4 linked regions of the Homo sapiens genome follow. The protein of the gene in region 1 purifies or fractionates together with the protein of each later gene. This does not show direct contact. Each region holds a gene or a part of one and is shown on either strand. Other genes may lie near its edges.

What was found.
Region 2: the proteins of TRMT10B (region 1) and MRPS21 purify together in Homo sapiens (affinity purification with mass spectrometry; 3 studies listed by BioGRID and IntAct, with this or other methods). This does not show direct contact.
Region 3: the proteins of TRMT10B (region 1) and TUBA8 purify together in Homo sapiens (affinity purification with mass spectrometry; 3 studies listed by BioGRID and IntAct, with this or other methods). This does not show direct contact.
Region 4: the proteins of TRMT10B (region 1) and WDTC1 purify together in Homo sapiens (affinity purification with mass spectrometry; one large-scale study listed by BioGRID and IntAct). This does not show direct contact.

The regions. Positions count from the first base shown.
Region 1 is NC_000009.12:37,762,790-37,767,765, reverse strand, and holds part of TRMT10B (tRNA methyltransferase 10 homolog B), read right to left. Parts: exon of another isoform or gene 4,138-4,976; coding exon 4,013-4,137; coding exon of another isoform or gene 3,908-4,012; exon of another isoform or gene 3,901-3,907; intron 3,161-3,900; exon of another isoform or gene 3,142-3,160; intron 1-3,141. UniProt on the Homo sapiens protein: S-adenosyl-L-methionine-dependent guanine N(1)-methyltransferase that catalyzes the formation of N(1)-methylguanine at position 9 (m1G9) in tRNAs. Probably not able to catalyze formation of N(1)-methyladenine at position 9 (m1A9) in tRNAs.
Region 2 is NC_000001.11:150,295,794-150,300,769, reverse strand, and holds part of MRPS21 (small ribosomal subunit protein bS21m), read right to left. Parts: intron 1-4,976.
Region 3 is NC_000022.11:18,112,742-18,117,717, reverse strand, and holds part of TUBA8 (tubulin alpha-8 chain), read right to left. Parts: intron 1-4,976.
Region 4 is NC_000001.11:27,303,065-27,308,040, forward strand, and holds part of WDTC1 (WD and tetratricopeptide repeats protein 1), read left to right. Parts: intron 1-556; coding exon 557-731; intron 732-1,936; coding exon 1,937-2,129; intron 2,130-3,121; coding exon 3,122-3,319; 3' UTR 3,320-4,976. UniProt on the Homo sapiens protein: May function as a substrate receptor for CUL4-DDB1 E3 ubiquitin-protein ligase complex.

The DNA of each region.
Region 1 (4,976 bases):
TAAAGAGGTTTCATTAATATACATAAATGTTTTTACAGAACATCATATAAATTTGGTACCTTCTTCCTAACTTCAGGAGATGCAATAGGGTTGGAAGTTTTAACTTTTTACCCTGAATCACAGACAATGCTCTTATATAAAAGCAATTTCACAATTTGGCTTGATTTGTTGGGTAGGAGAAAAAGACTCTGGGTTTGATTTAATCTGCTATCTTAATTTAACAATATGGATTTTTTTTTTTTTTTTTTTTTTGGAGACAGGGTCTGGCTGTGTTACCCAGGCTGGAGTGCAGTGGTACAATCATAGCTCACTACAGCCTCAAATTCCTGGGCTCAAGTGATCCTCCTACCTCAGCCTCCTGAGTAGCTGGGACTACAGGTACAGGCCACCATACCTGGCTAATTTTTAATTTTTTAGAGGCAGGGTCTTCCTATATTGCCTAGGCTAGTCTTGAACTCCTGGCCTCAAGTGATCCTCTTGCCTCGGCCTCCCAAGATGCTGGGATTATATGCAGGAGCCACTGTGCCCAGCCTAATAGTAGGGAATTCTTGGTTAACATTTTCAGAGGACTAGAGTTAGAAGTTTCAGGTAGGAACCTCAGATCTGCAGTTTTCCTAACTTATCTGAAAAATATGCAAACACTAGCACATAAAACAGATGTCTAAAAAGAGAGTTTACAATTTACATACTGTGATGTAAGGCCTAAAATTAAGGCCCAGTATTATGCACTGCCTTGACATCTGTCAAAACTGGGAATACTTCAAATAGCCTAATAGTAAGCTCCCCTCCCAACTCTGCTCCCGTAGATAAGGTCTCCTAGCTTTAAAAATCCTTTTTATACAAAATCAATGTGCAAAAATCACAAGCATTCTTATACACCAATAACAGACAAACAGCCAAATCATGAGTGAACTCTGATTCACAGTTGCTTCAAAGAGAATAAAATACCTAGGAACCCAGCTTACAAGGGATGTGAAGGACCTCTTCAAGGAGAGCTACAAACCACTGCTCAATGAAATAAAAGAGGATACAAACAAATGGAAGAACATTCCATGCTCATGGGTAGGAAAATCAATATCATTAAAATGGCCATACTGCCCAAGGTAATTTATAGATTCAATGCCATCCCCATCAGGCTACCAATGACTTTCTTCACAGACTTGGAAAAAACTACTTTAAAGTTCATATGGAACCAAAGAAGAGCCTGCATTGCCAAGTCAATCCTAAGCCAAAAGAACAAAGCTGGAGGCATCATGCTACCTGACTTCAAACTATACTACAAGGCTACAGTAACCAAAACAGCATGGTACTGGTACCAAAACAGATATAGACCAATGGAACAGAACAGAGCCCTCAGAAATAATGCCACATATATCTACAACTATCTAATCTTTGACAAACCTGAGAAAAACAAGCAATGGGGAAAGGATACCCTATTTAATAAATGGTGCTGGGAAAACTGGCTAGCCATATGTAGAAAGCTGAAACTGGATCCCTTCCTTACACCTTATACAAAAATTAATTCAAGATGGATTAAAGACTTAAATGTTAGACCTAAAACCATAAAAACCCTAGAAGAAAACCTAGGCAATACCATTCAGGACATAGGCATGGGCAAGGACTTCATGTCTAAAACACCAAAAGCAACGGCAACAAAAGCCAAAATTGACAAATGGGATCTAATTCAACTAAAGAGCTTCTGCACAGCAAAAGAAACCACCATCAGAGTGAACAGGCAACCTACAGAATGGGAGGAAATTTTTGCAATCTACTCATCTGACAAAGGGCTAATATCCAGAATCTACAATGAACTCAAATTTACAAAAAAAAAAAAACCCATCAAAAAGTGGGCAAAGGATATGAACAGACACTTCTCAAAAGACGACATTTATGCAGCCAAAAAACACATGAAAAAATGCTCATCATCACTAGCCATCAGAGAAATGCAAATCAAAACCACAATGAGATACCACCTCACACCAGTTAGAATGGCAATCATTAAAAAGTCAGGAAACAACAGGTGCTGGAGAGGATGTGGAGAAATAGGAACACTTTTACACTGTTGGTGGGACTGGAAACTAGTTCAACCATTGTGGAAGTCGGTGTGGCGATTCCTCAGGGATCTAGAACCAGAAATACCATTTGACCCAGCCATCCCATTACTGGGTATATACCCAAAGGATTATAAATCATGCTTCTATAAAGACACATGCACACGTATGTTTATTCCGGCACTATTCACAATAGCAAAGACATGGAACCAACCAACGATAGATTGGATTAAGAAAATGTGGCACATATATACCATGGAATAGTATGCAGCCATAAAAAATGATGAGTTCATGTCCTTTGTAGGGACATGGATGAAGCTGGAAACTATCATTCTCAGCAAACTATCACAAGGACAAAAAACCAAACACCGTATGTTCTCACTCATAGGTGGGAATTGAACAATGAGAACACATGGACACGGGAAGGGGAACATCACACACCAGGGACTGTTGTGGGGTCGGGGGACGGGGGGAAGGACAGCATTAGGAGATATACCTAATGCTAAATGACGAGTTAATGGGTGCAGCACCAACATGGCACACGTATACCTATGTAACAAACCTGCACGTTGTGCACATGTACCTTAAAACTTAATAATAAATAATTAAATACTTTTCATCAAGGGTCCAAGGCATAATCTCTTTATCCCTAAGGAGTTTTGGTTCCCTGCCAGCCCATGGAATTTTCCTAACAAGCCAATCACATCCTCCTATAGTAACCAGGGGGCACCTCAACCCCTGGATACTACAAAGCCCACCTCACACAGCCCCTTGCTGTTCATTCTGTTCTTGATTACAATCCCCACGTGGCCCTGTATGGTATACAGTATCTTCCTCCCCTGGGCTGTAAGTATATGAGACTCATGAACTGCTGTGAATCTCATCTGTCCAGTGTCAGGTGTCATGCATTCTGCCATTCCCAGAACTCTAGTGTGGGAATCCCTCTTTCATCAATGAGGTGAATGAGCATCAATTAAAACACATACATTGAGGCCAGGCACAGTAGCTCACGCCTGTAATCGCAGCACTTTGGGAGGCTGAGGCAGGTGGATCACCTGAGGACAGGAGTTTGAGACCAGCCTGGCCAACATCGCAAAATCCCGTCTCTACTAAAAATAGAAAAAAAATTAGCTGGGTGTGCCAGGCGCAGTAGCTCACAAGGTCAGGAGATCGAGACCACCCTGGCTAACATGGTGAAACCCCATCTCTACTAAAAATACAAAACCTTAGCTGGGCATGGTGGCAGGAGCCTGTAGTCCCAGCTACGTGGGAGGCTGAGGCACAAGAATGGCGTCAACCCAGGAGGTGGAGCTTGCAGTGAGCCAAGATTGCACCACTGCACTCCAGCCCCGGCAACAGAGTGAGACTCTGTCTCCAAAAAAAAAAAAAAAAAAAAAAATTTGTCAGGCGTGGTGGCAGACGCCTGTAATCCCAGCTGCTCAGAAGGCTGAGGCAGAAGAATTGCTTGAACCCAGGAAGCAGAGGTTGCAGTGAGCTGAGATTTTGCCATTGTACTCCAGCCTAGGTGACAAAAGCAAGACTCCATCTCAAAAAAACAACAACAAAAAACACACACATTGCAAAAAGTTCTTCCACCAGGTAATCTTCCCACAACATGCTACCAGGCAAATATTCCTCTTCCCAAAGGTTTAGTGTCTGGAAAACTGAACCTGAAAGGTTCCATCCAGACTGAGGATATCATGAACAGAGAGGCAAAGATGTTGGGCTTAAAACAGAAGACAAGGTAAAAATTTGCAAACTAAACCAAACTATATATATTCTCTTCCAGGTTCGTTACAACAGCCACCTTGGAACTTAGTAACCCAGTATAGAAAATCAAACACTTTACTAGTTTACTAAGGAATCCCAGAAGCTGGAGTTGACCATATTCTTCGGAAAGCTGTACCCTTCTGGGCCTCCCTCATGGCGAGCAGGAATTCCAGGCTTAGTGGATGTTCTACCTTCTTTGACATGTAGTGGGTCATACTCAAATCGATACATAGTCTTGGTCCTGAGTGTTTGGCTTCCAAAAGTTTGTCTTTGGTTAGAGCTCTCAGGAAACGTTTGCTGTGCTGGGGGCAAATGCCTAAAGCAGAAATATCAGAAAGAAATAAAAGTGGAAAACCAGAGGAATATTATATAAGAAACAAATCTTAGCCAGGTGGGTATTTTGCATATAAAGAGAAACTTGATACTGATGTAAGGTATTCGTTCATTAGAAGATTTACACAGAGTGGTGAGGAGTATGGGCTCTGCAGCACACAGCAGGGTTTAAATCCAAGTTCAGTTTGTTCATTGATTGGCTACATTATCTTGGGCATAATTATGTTACTTAATTTCTCTAAGCCTCAGTCTCTTCACCTACAAAATGGGAATGATAATAACAGCTCCTCTTTATTGAGGTAATCCATGTAAAATTCTTAGAACTGAACCTAACACAGAATACTGAATAAATATTAGCTGTTGCTGGTATCACTCCTATTCTGAGCTTATAAACACGTTAGTTAGATAGCTTATATTTGAAAAGCAGCCTTAAATTTTTTTTTTTGTTTTTTTTTTTTTTTTTTTTTTGAGACAGAGTCTCACTCTGTCACCCAGGCTCTGGAGTGCAGTGGCTCAATCTCGGCTCACTGCAACCTCTAATCTCCCAGGTTTGTGATTCTCCTGCCTCAGCCTCCCAAATATAGCTGGGACTACAGGTGCGTGCCACCACACCCGGCTTTTTTTTTTTTTTTTTGTATTTTTAGTAGAGATGGGGTTTCACCGTGTTATCCAGGACGGTCTCGATCTCCTGACCTCGCAAATCCACCCACCTCAGCCTCCCAAAGTGCTGGGATTACAGGTGTGAGCCACCACACCCAGCTACAAATTTTGCTTTCTTTGATGTTTTGATTCCCAAGAAAATAGGGCAGTGGGTCCCACATC
Region 2 (4,976 bases), on another chromosome or scaffold:
TTAACCAGGGTAATTAACAGAATGCCAAAGGATACAAGTTTCTGGACAAATTTGATGCATCTGCCTGGAGGCACCAATTTTAACTCGAAGGAGTGGGGGTGTTACCCATAAAACAGATGCAATGGCAACGAATACGAAGTTCACCTTACATTTTAATTTAGGGAAGCTTCAAAGAAATTCCATGTTTGCTTATAGTAGCAGAACCCCTATAGTTCATTCACTCTCCTCTGCTGTTAACGACACTTCAGTAAAAAAGTTTGACAAACATTAAATAAGTGACAAAAAAGATAAAGGAACATTTATGTTCATTAAGTAGACATTTAATGAGAGCTTTGGATGTGCCAGACACTTTGGTAAATCCAAGAGATACACAAATGAAAAAGCATAGGTTTCTGTCCTTAAGGAGGCTACAAGCCTTTTTTTTTTTGAGACAGGGTCTCACTTTGTCACCCAGGCTGGAGTGCAGTGGCGCGATCTCGGCTCACTGCAACCTCCAGCTCCCAGGTTCAAGCGATTCTCCTGCCTCAGCCTCCCGAATAGCTGGGATTACAGGTATGCACCATCATACCCGGCTAATTTTTATATTTTTAGTAGAGACGGGGTTTTACCATGTTGGCCAGGCTGGTCTTGAACTCCTAACCTCAAATGATCCGCCCCCCTCAGCCTCCCAAAGTGCTGGGATTACAGGCATGAGTCACTGTGCCCAGCCAGGAGGCTACAAGTCTATTATAATAATTTTCAATCCTGGTGAAATCTCATGGTATGTTTTTTAAAATGCTGCCATCCAGGTTGCAACCCCTGGAGATTCTGATTCATCTCAGATTGGGCCCTGGCATTAGTTTTGTTTTCTTGATGGTTCGTTCCCTAGGTGATCCTAATAGGCAGCCAGGGTTGAAACCACAGGGTGTCACACTGACCACTCTCCGGCTCTCTAATATTAACACTTCGACCCAGGAAATAGGTTTGTGTAAAATGCCAGTCACCAACAAAAAGAGAACCATAAAAGTAGTATGTGGGCTGGGTGTGGTGGCTCACACCTGTAATCCCAGCACTTTGGGAGACAGAGGCGGGTGGATCACCTGAGGTCAGGAGTTCGAGACCAGCCTGGCCAACATGGTGAAACCCCGTCTCTACTAAAAATACCAAAACTAGCCAGGCGTGGTGGCAAGTGCCTGTAATCCCAGCTACACGGGGGGCTGAGGCAGGAGAATCACTTGAACCTGGGAGGCGGAGGTTGCAGTGAGCCGAGATCATGCCACTGCACTCCAGCTTGGGGGACAAGAGCGAGACATCGTCTCAAACAAACAAACAAACAAACAAACAAAAAACAGAAAAAAAAACAGGAAAAGCAAAAACTGAGTGTTGATTAAATTAAAAATATAGTGGCTGGACAAGGATTTTTAAAAGAGGCAGATAAAAAGGGGTATAGACAATCTTAGACAAAGAAATAAGAGTCTTCTCTCAAAAGATAAGAGCTGGCCTTATATTTTCTGCAAACCTGGTATCAGTGAAGAGGATCAGGAAGGAGATTAGAAATATTTTGTTTCTCAGATTCTGTTTCAAATTTTAGGTGTAAATGGGGATGCATTCCATATATGATATGGGGCATCACTGCAGTCTCTGCCTCCCAGGTTCAAGCGGCTCTTCTGCCTCAGCCTACGGAGTAGCTGGGATTACAGACCTGTGCCACCATGCATGGCTAATTTTTGTATTTTTAGTAAAGACGGGGTTTCGCCATGTTGGCCAGGCTAGTCTCGAACTCCTGGCCTCAAGTGATCCACCATTCTTAGCCTCCCAAATTGCTGAGAATACAAGACTGAGGCACTGCACCCAGCCGCTACTCTCTTGATACAACTGTAAGAAGTGGTTCAGCTGGGCATGGTGGCTCACGCCTGTAATCCCAGCACTTTGGGAGGCTGAGGTGGGCAGATCACGAGGTCAGGAGATCGAGACCATTCTGGCTAACATGGTGAAACCCCGTCTCTACTAAAAATACAAAAAATTAGCCGGGGTAGTGGCATGCGCCTGTAGTCCCAGCTACTCGGGAGGCTGAGGCAGGAGAATCGCTTGAACTCGGGAGGCGGAGGTCACAGTGAGCAGAGATTGCGCCACTGCGCTCCAGCCTGGGCGACAGAGGGAGACTCCGTCTCAAAAAAAAAGTGGTTCAATAAATAATACTGTACCACAAATTTTGTTGTTTTTTGTCAAAGTAGCTAATTTTCTAAAAACAAAATTCTTGCTTTTGTGTTATCTATACTTTAGGAATAAGGGAACTAAAACTGAGCCTGTTGGAAATTTGTTTTACCATTAAGCAACAGCTATCCTTTGATCTTTCAATAACAAACATCTCAACAACCATGGCCAGAAGACCTATCTAAATCTACCAAAATAAATCATACAGAAGAAGATTTACAGGGAGAAGTCAGAAAAAAAGAGTGAAGTTACACGTAATACATGCCTTTTCCCAAATTCAACATTCATCTCCCTAGCTAACTCACTGCAGGGTCTGGATGTTACCTATAAAGACGTTCATTTTAGGCCAGGTGCAGTGGCTCAAGCCTGTAATCCCAGCACTTTGGGAGGCCAAGGCGGGTGGATCATGTGAGGTTGGGAGTTAGAGACCAGCCTGACTAACCTGGAGAAACCCCATCTCTAGTAAAAATACAAAATTAGCTGGGCTTGGTGGCGCATGCCTGTAATCCCAGCTACTCAGGAGGCTGAGGCAGGAGAAACGCTTGAACATGGGCGGCAGAGGTTGCGGTGAGCCGAGATGGCACCATTGCACTCCAGCTTGGGCAATAAGAGTGAAACTCTGTCTCAAAAAAAAAAAAGTTCATTTTGTACTTCCAAGATAGCAAAGTAGGGCCAGAGAAAGGTCATTAGACATAATATACTTCTCAGACATGCCACCAGAAGGTATGAAATAGGAGAGTTAGAAATGAGGAGAAACAGAGAAAAATGAAACAGGATACCTTACAACCTGGTACTTATCTTTACTCTCAGCATAGGTGACAATGTAGAGGGAACAGCTTCAGCCCAAGGATATAATTGTTATGCACATAGAATTAAGTGATGTGGCTGACCCCAGACCAGATTTTTTTTTTTGAGTCTTACTCTGTGGCCCAGACTGGAATGCAGTGGCACGATTCTGGCTCACTGCAGCCTCTATTTCCCAGGTTCAAGTGATTCTCCTGCCTCAGCCTCCCAAGTAGCTGAGATTACAGGCGCCTGCCACCACATATGGCTAATTTTGTATTTTTAGTAGAGACAGGGTTTCGCTATGTTGGCCAGGCTGGTATTGAACTCCTGACCTCAGGTGATCCACCCGCCTGAACCTCCCAAAGTGCTGGGATTACAGGCATGAGCCACCACGCCTGACCCTAAGACCAGATCCTTTTAAAAGACATAGAAACCATTCTGAGCCTGCAACTGCTTCTCATTTACACAGCTTCTGACAGCATTTTTTCTTTTTTTTTTTGTAGACAGAGTCTCGCTCTGTTGCCCAGGCTGGAGTGTAGTGGCACGCTCTCGGCTCACTGCAACCTCCTCCTCCCGGGTTCAAGCGATTCTCCTGTCTCAGCCTCCTCAGTAGCTGGGACTACAGGTGTGTGCCACCACGCCCGGCTAATCTTTTGTATTTTTAGTAGAGACGGGGTTTCACCGTGTTAGCCAGGATGGTCTCGATGTCCTGACCTCGTGATCCGCCCGCCTTGGCCTCCCAAAGTGCTGGGATTACAGGCGTGAGCCACCGCGCCCGGCTGACAGCATTTTTTTCCTCACTGTGGTCTTCTGCCATCCAGCCTTCCACACCTAGAACTCTCTGCTTTGCTAAGAACTAGGTTCCCTTTCCTTTGCCCTCTCAGTCCTCAAGAACCCTACCAATATTTAAACCCAATCAGATGAGGATTCTGGTTTTTTTTTTAAAGCGACACCTGCTGAAATGACAAGACAAGGATTCTAAATTGGAAAATGAACCACCATAAGTCTTTCCATTTCTAGTAAGACTAGTAATAATTATTAAAGAACATTGCACTAAAAAGATGTGCTTTAGGCTCCTCTCCACCATTCAATAACTGCATAACCCAATAAAGATAATCTGATCTTCCAAGGCTTCCCTTACTTGTGAAATAAAGCTACCACATTAAAGGCCTTAATGCAGCCCATGCAATATCTTTCCTACATTTTTTTTAAGAGACATGGTCTCACTATGCTTCCTAGGTTAGAGTGGAGTGGTTATTCACAGGCACAACAAGAGTGCACTCACACTACAGTCTTGAACTCCTGGGTTCAAGCAATCCTCTTGCCTCAGCCTCTGGAGCAGCTAGCACTACAGGAGCCCCTTCCTTACAATTCTTTGATAATTCAACTCAACAAGCGTTTGTTTCTCCAAATGTTACTTCACATTGGGGAAAGAAAATGACGCGTGAGTCATACCAGAAAGTCAAAATCCACACAACTGGTGAGAAGGGAAGGTTAAGAACTTTTTGCTTGAGAATTCAGTGGTAAAGTACTACTAGGGCTGGGCCGGATGCAGTGGCTCATGCCTGTAATCCCAGCACTTTGGGAGGCCAAGGCGGGTGGATCACGAGGTCAAGAGATTGAGACCATCTTGGCTAACGTGGTGAAACCCTCTCTACTAAAAATACAAAAATCAGCCAGGCGTGGTGGTGGGCACCTGTAGTCCCAGCTACTCAGGAGACTGAGGCAGAAGAGTCAATTGAACCCAGGAGGCGGAGGCTGCAGTGAGCCGAGACTGCACCACTGCGCTCCAGCCTGGCAACAGAGCAAGACTCCGTTTTAAAAAAAAAAAAAAAAAAGTATTACTAGGGCTCTTCTACATCTCTTAGCCTGGCATTCAAAAATTTTCAATGAAGCTATAAAGCTCCTCCACCCCAGCTAGTTTGTTTCCATTTATGTATTTTTCCTTATGCTGTATCTTTCCTGAAAACTTGTAAGCTTTCCCATCTTTCTTTTTT
Region 3 (4,976 bases), on another chromosome or scaffold:
CTGCAAGCTCCGCCTGCCGGGTTCACACCATTCTCCTGCCTCAGCCTCCCAGGTAGCTGGGACTACGGGCGCTCGCCACCACACCCGGCTAATTTTTTGTATTCTTTTAGTACAGACAGGGTTTCACCATGTTAGCCAGGATGGTCTCGATCTCCTGACCTCGTGATCCACCTGCCTCAGCCTCCCAAAGTGCTGGGATTACAGGCGTGAGCCATCGGGCCTGGCCCAGCCTTTTCAACTCATGAGAAATGAAGAGCTGGGAGGGGCTGTCCCATGTCAAAGGAACTAAGGCACCACCAAGCACCACCACACGCATCATGGGGACTCTGACTGAATTCTTGTTTGAACAAATCAAAATATTTGGGGGACAAATAAACTGATTTGCTTTGTTCAGCGTATTCATAAAAATGTGGTTAAGTATGAAAACATCCTTATTTTTTAGAGTTGCATCCGAAGCATTTAGAGGTAAAATGTCATGACGTCTGTACTTTAAAATCCTTCCCAAACACAGCAAATAACAGATGGAAAAATCATTCTTCTTCTTAAATCTAGATAATAGGTATATGGGTGGCATATCACTCTACTTTTCTGAAGGCTTAAAATTTTTCATAGTAAAAAGCAAAAATCATAATAAAGAAGACAGAGAAAGAATAGGAGCACGGACTGCCCTCTCCAGAACCCCCTTATCCTGGGCCATTGCACGCAGTCACTTACTCAAATAATAATTGACTACGCGCCTACATTGCTAGGGCTTTGAAGTTCCATGAAGAAATCACAAGTGAAATTCAAAGCTGCACGAGGCTTCATGGCACTGTGAGGTCCGTGCCCAGCCCCAGCACTCTGCAGGCCTCTTGCACCTGCTCCTAGCAGGGAGGAGGAGCAGCCCACAGCTCCCGCATCGAGCTCCCGGCTCAGGCACTGAGCTCGACTCCTGCAGCCATGCTGCCCCATTACCCTCCCCAGCCTTCGGCCTGGAAGTTCCACAGAGCAGACCCAGTGCTGAAGCCCGTGGGACGCATCCTCACGTCTAAGAAAAGGCATCCTTCTATCATAACCAGGGATGTTATATCGGCTCCGAACATTTAGGATACCAGAGCTGGGCCAGTCAAGGGCATCCTTCTATCATAACCAGGGATGTTGTATTGGCTACAAACATTTACGATACCAGAGCTGGGCCAGCCTCATGGATCACCTAATATGATTCCCTCTCCATTATTTTACAGATGAAACTGCTGAGCTCAGAGAGGAAAAGGGACAAATTCAGTATGTCACAGCACTGCAGCAGCAAAAGAGCCTGGACCAGAATCCAGGGCTGCTGACCCGGGCCTGACTTCTTTCTTTTAGGCCACATGGCCTCCTGCCTCACTTGCAGCTCTGAACTCCCAGGGCCCTGGGGTGTGCCCACATCTGCGCCAATGCAAGACCAAGTTCGGATAGCAGAACTCCAAACAGGAAATGTCTCTTGTGCAGAGCGAAATGGCGAATGGCTCATGGGGCGGCCTCTTTGAAAATGGGTCATCTTTCTCTGACAGAACCAGAAGTCCGCTTCTCAGGGCCCACGTGTGCAGCTGGGGTTGGGGGCAAGGGGAAGCTGACCCAGCAGAGGATATTTAAGTCATGTGCCCGCTCCAAACTCATATTTCAGATTCCTCTGTCTAGCCAATCAGAGCACATGCCTGTCACTCACACTGCTCCTGTCTCTCTCAGTTCTATTTTCAATCTGGGCTTGTAGAGCTCAGACAAGTTCTGTCCTCCTTGGTCCCTGTGAGGGGAGGGGGTCCCTTGTTTGCTGCAGAAGCCTGTCCCACCCAACTTCTTCTGGGGGGTGAAGAGGAGGGAGGTGGAGGGACCAAGGAGGTCCCTTCCTCATGAAAAGCATGCCACTTCTCACACAGACCTCACGCTGGGATAGCTACAAAAGGCACCTACTCATTTCTACAGCAAATCTTTTTGTGTGGTTGCATTCGAGACAGCATTGTGAGGTTACTGGGCTAACTCTCATTCATCCTTCAGGTATCCAGTTAATTGTCACTTCCTAAGGAAAGTCTGCAAAACCCCAAGCCAGCATAGGGCCCTGCCATGTGCTCCCCCATCCCCTTCATTCCTGTCATTGTAATCATCACACCGTATTATAGCTGCCTGTTCATTTTCGCACCTTTCTAGTAGAGAACGTAAGCTCTGTGAGGGCAAGGAACCTTTGTTTCACTCAAGGAATCCCCAGTACCGAGCCCGGTGCTTGAATGTAGCAGGTGCTCAATTAACACAGGGAGGACTGGAATGAAAACCTTCCCTGAGGGGCTGCAGTCCATCCAACAAGGACAGCGGCCAGGGCCTAAGAAGTGTACGGGTCAAGTGCAGAGGGAGTTCCAAGGAGAAGGAGACATCTTCTAGCTTGGTTTCCTAAAGGAGGAATATTCGCAGGGACCCTGAAGAAGGCAGCCGGCCAAGATGATCTGGGGCAGTTCAGGTGGATGCAGGAGCAGTGTGAACAAGAGGCAGTAAAACGCAGGGTGGTTCCCGCACACTGCCCAGTCTGTCCGGAGCGCAGGCTGAGGAAGGGCAGGGCCAATGAGACATCTGGGCCACCTGTGAACACTCCGCCTGGGGAGCCACTGCCCTGTGAGCCAAGGCCCCTCGCTGGGAGGCATGAGCCCAGTGCCTGTGTTTTGCAGAGCATCAATAAAAGAAATTCTAGAACTTTGCAGCCCTTTTATAATTTTGCTGCAAGAAGCCCTTTTTTTTTTACATCATTCTTATATTCTATTTTAATAGTAGTCATTTCCTTTTGCTTTGTTCTCAGAGGACTAAGATAAGCTAATCACCATCCTTGGCAAAAGGAGACTTTGAAGCCTTAAAAAGGCTGTCTTGTGATACTATTTCCAAGTATCACAAGACAGTAAAAGTGGCATATCATCTGGGAGAGGGGCCGACGTGGACCACAGTGTGTGCCCTGTGAAAGCCTGGCACCACCCACACTCCCTGACCACCTGTGCTCTCATGCCCCAGTTGCTGTCAGGAAGCATGTGATTACACCGAATTATCTCTAGTTGTCAGGCTGGGATAAAATAGATCACATATATCTTAGGACCTAGGTCAGGGATGGCAAGTGAAAAGCAGGCCCACAGTGTCACAGAGGGGTAATTAAAGTAAGGACAGATGTGGCTCCTGAAGGGCTGCTGAATTCTCTCTGCTCAGAACTCTTCGATCATAGGGCATATTTGAGATCACTCATAACAAAGAATAGATAGCAAGCCAGACACAGCAAAAACAAAGTCGGCCTAAATTCACTTTAGCGAGTGAAGGTGGCTCGCGAGAGGGGCTCAGATGATAGGCACTGCAGTTAGGGCAGCAACAGAGCTCACAGGAGGCCAGCTCTGGCCATGAGGCCATCTGCTAAGGAGACTTCCAGCATAAGAGGCCGGAGGGCGTTGAAGGCCTGGGCTGTGGCTGGCACTGGGGCAGGTGCAAGAGACACTTAGGAGTTTCAATCCGATGCACACAGTGCCTGCTCCATCTCCTGCTCTCTTCTGCAGCTTATTATCTGAGAGAACTCCTAACAGGAAGACACTGCAGGGGAAATGCCAACCACAAAGGCCACAGATAGTGCTGTCCGTCCCTTGCGGCTTGAGGGAAAAGGAGCATTTGGTCTGCTTCCTCCCCCCGACAGTGCCACATCCTCCTGCCCACCCCCATCACTGGCCCGCTATCCACCAGCTATTTCCCCCACCAAAATTATTTTTAACTTTCATCTCCCTTTGAAGGTCACTAGGAGAAAGCACATTCAACAGTGGCATTAACCCCCACCCCAAGCTCTGTATGGGCCTGACCCAAGGCTGGGGGCTCCCAATGGACTCACCAATCCAGCAGCTCTGCCCCAGCCGCTGCCCTGTGAGCCAAGGCCCCTCACTCGGAGGCATGCGCCCAGTGCTTCTCGGGAAACCTGCCTTTTGTGATGGGAGGGGAGGAGGAGGCAGCAGTGACCTGCAGCCCCTGGGAGCCCACACAGTGCTCTGAGGTCAGAATACACCTATCAACTCCACAGAGCTTGGCCATGCCTGTCTACATGGGGAGACTGCAGAAGGCTGCAGGCAGAAGGGTGTCCATTTGGCCCCCAGAACCCTCTAACTGCCCATTTTTGCAGGGAGACGGGCTCCTTCGTGCTCTCCAGTCCTAACGGAATGGAGTTAAAGAAGCCGTGTTGCAGATGTTCCCACCTCCCCATAAACCACAGAAAACTTCTCTGTGCCCTGGTATCATTGGCATGGGCTTGGCTTAGGGCACCTGGCCAGGATTCTCCATACCACTTCCCAAAAAAGGTGTCATAGTCTGAGTTCCCAGAGAGCTGCGTGCTAGAACACTGGGAATGGATGGGAATGGTCTGCTGTGGGAGTAGCCTGCCGGTCCCAGCACGGGCAGGTGGCTCAGGACAGAGGCTCTGGTGCCCAGCAGATGTAAACTCCAGCCCCTACGCAGCTTCTTACCAGCTGTGTCACTTTAGGCTCCAGGACAGAAATGCTAAAGGGTATTGGTGGTACCGTGCAGTGGGTAGCTGGGGAGAAGGGGTTGGGGGTAAGTTCACAGAGGAAAAATGCTCATCTGCCTAGCAGCTAGAGAAATGCATTTAAAAATACACTTAAGGATTAGTTACACTTTTCTTGCCCAGAGCCTACAGAAATTCCAAATCGAATTCTCCTTAACACCAAGGTCACCTCCCCCAAACCCCCACCAGGGAGGGAAGTGAAGGGGACAGGACAGCAGCCTGAAACTTAATCCTTAGAAGAAATACAGTCATTTTTGTAAGGGTGAGATTCTAGGGGTCTAGGTTTATAGATGTGTCATTTTAGCCTTTTACAAATGAGCCAAATGATATTTTAAAAGTTTCTGTGAGTGTAAAATGTTCAACAAAAAATATTAGCCATCAAGACAGTGCAACGCACACAAGTTAAATGTTCTAGATAGAACCTACTAGACAAAAT
Region 4 (4,976 bases), on another chromosome or scaffold:
GAGTTTGAGACCAGCCTGGCCAATGTGGCGAAACCCCGTCTCTACTAAAAATACAAAAATTAGCTGGGCGTGGTGGCACGTGCCTGGTAGTCCCAGTTACTCAGGAGGCTGAGGCAGGAGAATCGCTTGAACCTTGGAGGTGGAGGTTGCAGTGAGCCGAGATCACGCCACTGCACTCCAGCCTGCGTGACCATCTCAAAAAAAAAAAAAAAAGTCATCCATTCTCTCTTTGCTAGTGCCTCACTCTACCCTCCCCTGCCTCTTACCTCCACAGAAACAGACTTTGAGTCTCTGCATCTTTGGGGCTTTCAGGCCCTCATTTAGGGACCTGAACCAGGGCCCTCCTGGCATCAAAGGTCTCCTCTTGAACATCCTCAGGGGCTAGATCCAAAGATGCATCTTCCTCACAACCTTTCCCCAGTTTTCCAGGATAAGGGTGGAGGCAGGTAGCTCTATGTTGTCAGACTTTGGACTGAAAACAGAGCCATAGGTGGGGGAAAATAGGGAAGGAGAGAAAGGAACAAGGCGCTTACCTTTTCTGGATCTCTGCCCCCAGAGGAGAAGAAGGGACCTGGTGGCGGCGCCCCAGTCCGCCTCCGCAGCACGAGCCGCAAGGACTCCATCTCAGAGGATGAAATGGTGCTGCGGGAGCGAAGCTACGACTATCAGTTCCGCTACTGCGGCCACTGCAACACCACCACGGATATCAAAGAGGCCAATTTCTTTGGCAGGTCCGAGGCCCTGAAGAGGAGGGTGCAGCCCAGTTGGCAGCGGGAGGTTGAGTGGGGAGTGTTGGGGCATAATGGTTTCAGAGAAGAATCTCAAATCCCTGCTCTGCCTCTGTACCCTTGGGCAAATGGCTTCACCTTTGTCAGCCTCTAAAGTTTTTTAATCTATGAAATGACCAACCTGCCATGCCCATTTATGAGGCCATAACAAGGACTAATAAGATAACCCAAGTAGAGCCTCCAGCGCAGTGCCTGAACTACTCCTTCATCCCCCACCTCCTTCTCCCTCTGTCTGCATGTGCCAGAGCTTGGTTTCTTTATCTGCATTCAAGGAACCTCCCTCTGCTTGAGAGTATGAGGCAGCAGCCCTCCAAGGCTGGGAATCTTGGCACATCTGTTTTGTGCTCAAAACTGTGCCCTGTGTACTAAGGGACAAACTCTGTGTTTCAGACACCATCATCCCCACCCCTCATTTGTAGATGTACTTTCTTTGGGTAGGTGAGACACATGAACATGAATCAAGAATCTCTCCATAGGCCAGGCACAGTGGCTCATGCCCGTAATCCCAGCACTTGGGGAGGCTGAAGCAGGAGGATCGCTTGAGCCCAGGAGTTTGAGACCAGCCTGGACAGCATAGACCCCCATCTCTACAAAAAATGTTTTAAATTATCTGGGTGTGGTGACGTGCACCTGTAGTCCCAGCTATTCAGGAGGTTGACATTGGAGGACCAGTTAAGGCCACAGTGAGCCATGATCATGCCACTGTACTCCAGCTTGGGTGACAGAATGAGACCCTGTCTCTAAGAAAAAAAAAGAATCCATCAAGATGCCCTCTAAATGTCAGTGGTGTGTGAGGGGCAGGGGGAGTCTGGATGCCAGAAGCCTGGAACTGCTCAGGGGAGGCTTAAAACAGGGTATTTTGGAGACCCGAGAGATGATGTAAGATGATCCTGGCCCAAGGAGGTAATAATGAACTATAGGGGAGACTGTCTTGGAGAAATCCAGGTAGTCGCTGGCCCTAGGTTTAAGAGAACAGTGACCAGGGCTATATACCTGGAGGAATTCTGGGTCAAGTGCACACCCCAGCGTGTGGGGGACTGAGTGGCTGCAGACTTCCTTGCTCCCCCTTTACCTAGGCCATGCAGCCTCTACTTGAGGCTGTAGGGCAGTACCCCACCTGACCTCCCTGCCCTTTGCCCCCCCGCCAGCAACGCTCAGTATATCGTCAGTGGCTCTGACGATGGCTCCTTCTTCATCTGGGAAAAGGAGACCACCAACCTGGTCCGTGTGCTCCAAGGGGATGAGTCCATTGTCAACTGCCTGCAGCCACACCCCAGCTACTGCTTCCTGGCCACCAGTGGCATCGATCCTGTTGTGCGGCTCTGGAACCCCCGACCAGAGGTGAGGGTGCAGAGCCAAGCAGAGAGGAGGGCAGGGACTCTGTGGAAGGCTCCAGTGGAGCCTGCTAGCGCAGGGAAGAGAAATGAGCCACCCAGAGGCTAGAAGCTGCTAAGTAAGCCTTACCCCGGGGCCCAAGGCTGTGTTCTCAGATTCCAGAAGCTCCAAATGCAGCAGCAATTCTCCAGAAGCTGTGCAGAGGCCCTGGTCACAAGGGAACTATGCAGGCTTTGGCATCTGGTAGGCCTAAGTTTGAATCCAGTCTCCTCACTCGCTGCCTGAGAGACTTCACCATCTCTGACCCAGGCTTTTAATCATCTGTACATTGGGAATGGGAATGACAGCACCACCTTGAAAGGTTGTGGTGAGAAGTAAAGAAGAGATGCCTGTGAAGTGTCCAGCCCACAAGGACACTTAGGACAGTGGAGTCCCCTCCACTCCCAGGGTGGGTAGCCAGGGAAGCTGGCTTGGTGCCTCCCCTTCCCCTCTGCCCTACTGCTTCCCTCTTCCCAGCTGGCAAAACAAAAGTCAAGTGGTATGTCTGATTCCCAAGATAATTTGCTGTGACTTTTAAAGAGAGGACCCCTATAGGCTTCCCCATTGAGAGGAGAGGAGAAAGAAAGATGAAGCAAGAGTTGTGGCAACAAAACAGAATGGGGTGGGGAAGTTGTATCTGCCCCTTGTCCCAGGTATCCCAGTATGTGTGTCCAACATATCCTGGTGTGTACTGTCCCCCACGTATATCCCAGCATGTTATGACCTGCCTGTATATCCTGAGGTGGCGTATCTCCCATATATATTCCAGCGTGAGCACCCCCAACAATATGTAGCCAAGGTTGTGTGTTCCCCTCCACCATATACACCTCCTGGCATGTATGTGTACCTCCCCCTATAGATAGTTTAGTCTGTGTATTTCCCTCCCCCTCCCCTATACGTGTACCCTGGTGCCTCTCCCTCCCTGAGCCCCACGTGTGTCACCCCTTTCTCCACCACAGAGTGAAGACCTCACAGGCCGAGTCGTGGAAGATATGGAGGGTGCTTCACAGGCCAACCAGCGGCGCATGAATGCAGACCCGTTGGAGGTGATGCTGCTCAACATGGGCTACCGGATCACGGGCCTGAGCAGTGGGGGTGCCGGGGCCTCTGATGATGAGGACAGCTCTGAGGGCCAGGTGCAGTGCCGGCCCAGCTAGACCCTCCAGCCCTGGTCCCCAGCCCCTGCTACTGGCTGGACCCTCTGCCCTGGGCAGGAGGTCAGGGGATTCTGTTTTGGTTTGTCTTCCCCACCACCCTTTTTTTTCATTTCCCCTGTTTTGTTTGTTAGTTTGGCGTTAGGGGTGGAGGTTGCTACAACTTGCTGGCTTTCGGACTCTGGGCTGATTGTCCCCTGACTATCCCCAGCCCTGAAAAAAAGAGCAGGAGGGGACACCCCTCCATATGCCCCCCCCCATCTCCTGCTTTCATGTCCCTGGAGGGCTCTGGCCTGCCTCAAAACCCCTTCTGCCTCAGGTGGGGAGGAACAAGCTGAACTGTCTTCAGGGACTGTCCTGCCCTTTAGCTGGCAGCAGCAGGAGGAGTGGGATTCCCAATTGGTAAGGGCTCGCCTTGGCCTGTTGCCACTCTTGCTCCCTAGCCTGCAAGGCTAGCTCCCCTGTGGTCTTCAGGAAAGGTTTTGAAAAAGGATGGGTCCCACCCTCCCTCCAGAGCCACCAGTGTTAGAGCGGAGCCCAAAGGAAGGATGGGAGCCCTGGAGTGGGCAAGACCAGGCCACCTGCTGAGGTCGCTGTGGAGCACCCTCGCTCCTCTCCTGGCTACTAGCTCTGGCCCTGCACCTACTCTCACTGGCCACCTCTGGAGGCTCTGCCTTTCCCAAGGGCCCTGGCAGAGGGTGGGGCACTGCACCTTACCCCACCCATCCATGCCAGCACTTCTGCACTACGGCCATTCTCCTCTTGGGCGCTCCTCAGCCTCACTGTGACCTTTCTGCCAGAGCTCCCAGCCAGGCCTACTCTGCTGAGGTGGCGCTTCCTGCTAAGGGCCCTTCTCTGCCCTTTCTGCCCTCCTTCCCATCCCACATGCTGAGCCGCCACAAAGACCAAAGAAGTGATGGCTTTTCTCTGTCCCCTGCTGCTCTGAGGGGAGAGGGGTGGGTCTCCTGAGCCACTCAGATGGGAAAGTCCCTTACTCGGCCCCTCCCTCCCCAGCAGCCCCAAGCTTTACACTGGATGCAGCGATCAACCCACCACTCACCAGGCCTCTCCTCCCCTCTGCCCCCGGCTCTTAGCTCCAGCTGCTCCAGGTAGTTGGTTCATCCTTCCCCCTCTCTCCCTCCCTGCTTCCCCTTCAGTGCTTACTTGGCTCCAGCCCTCCAGCTGCAGCCCCTGGGGAAAAGCAGCCTCCCTTCTCCTCTCCCTCCACTCCCTCGCTCCCTCCCTCAGCCCCTGTCTCTGCCAGGTGCCTCCTCTCAGTCAGGCTTCAGAGCAGCCCTGGAGACAGGAGGGCCATGTTAAAAGCTTTTTCACAGTTTTAAGAAGACAAGTGGAGGGTGAGGATAGTGGTGGGGGGTCTGGCACCATCTCATTGCTTTAATCCCAGCAACACAGGTGGCAGCTTCTCCCCCTTCCTTCCCACCCCAGTCCCTCTTCCCACCCCTCTCTTCTAGCTTGGTAATGAAGTATATTTATTGGTGAAGGAAACAGCTGCTGCTGCTTCTCCTGCTGCTGGGACCTGCTCCCCTGTCTCTTCTCCGTGACCTTTCTCTAGCCAGGGAGAAGGGAGAGCAGGAGTATTGGGGCTGGGCCCTGGGGCCCAAGGACCAGCTGGGTCCCCTTTGCTTTCTTGTGTTCCAGC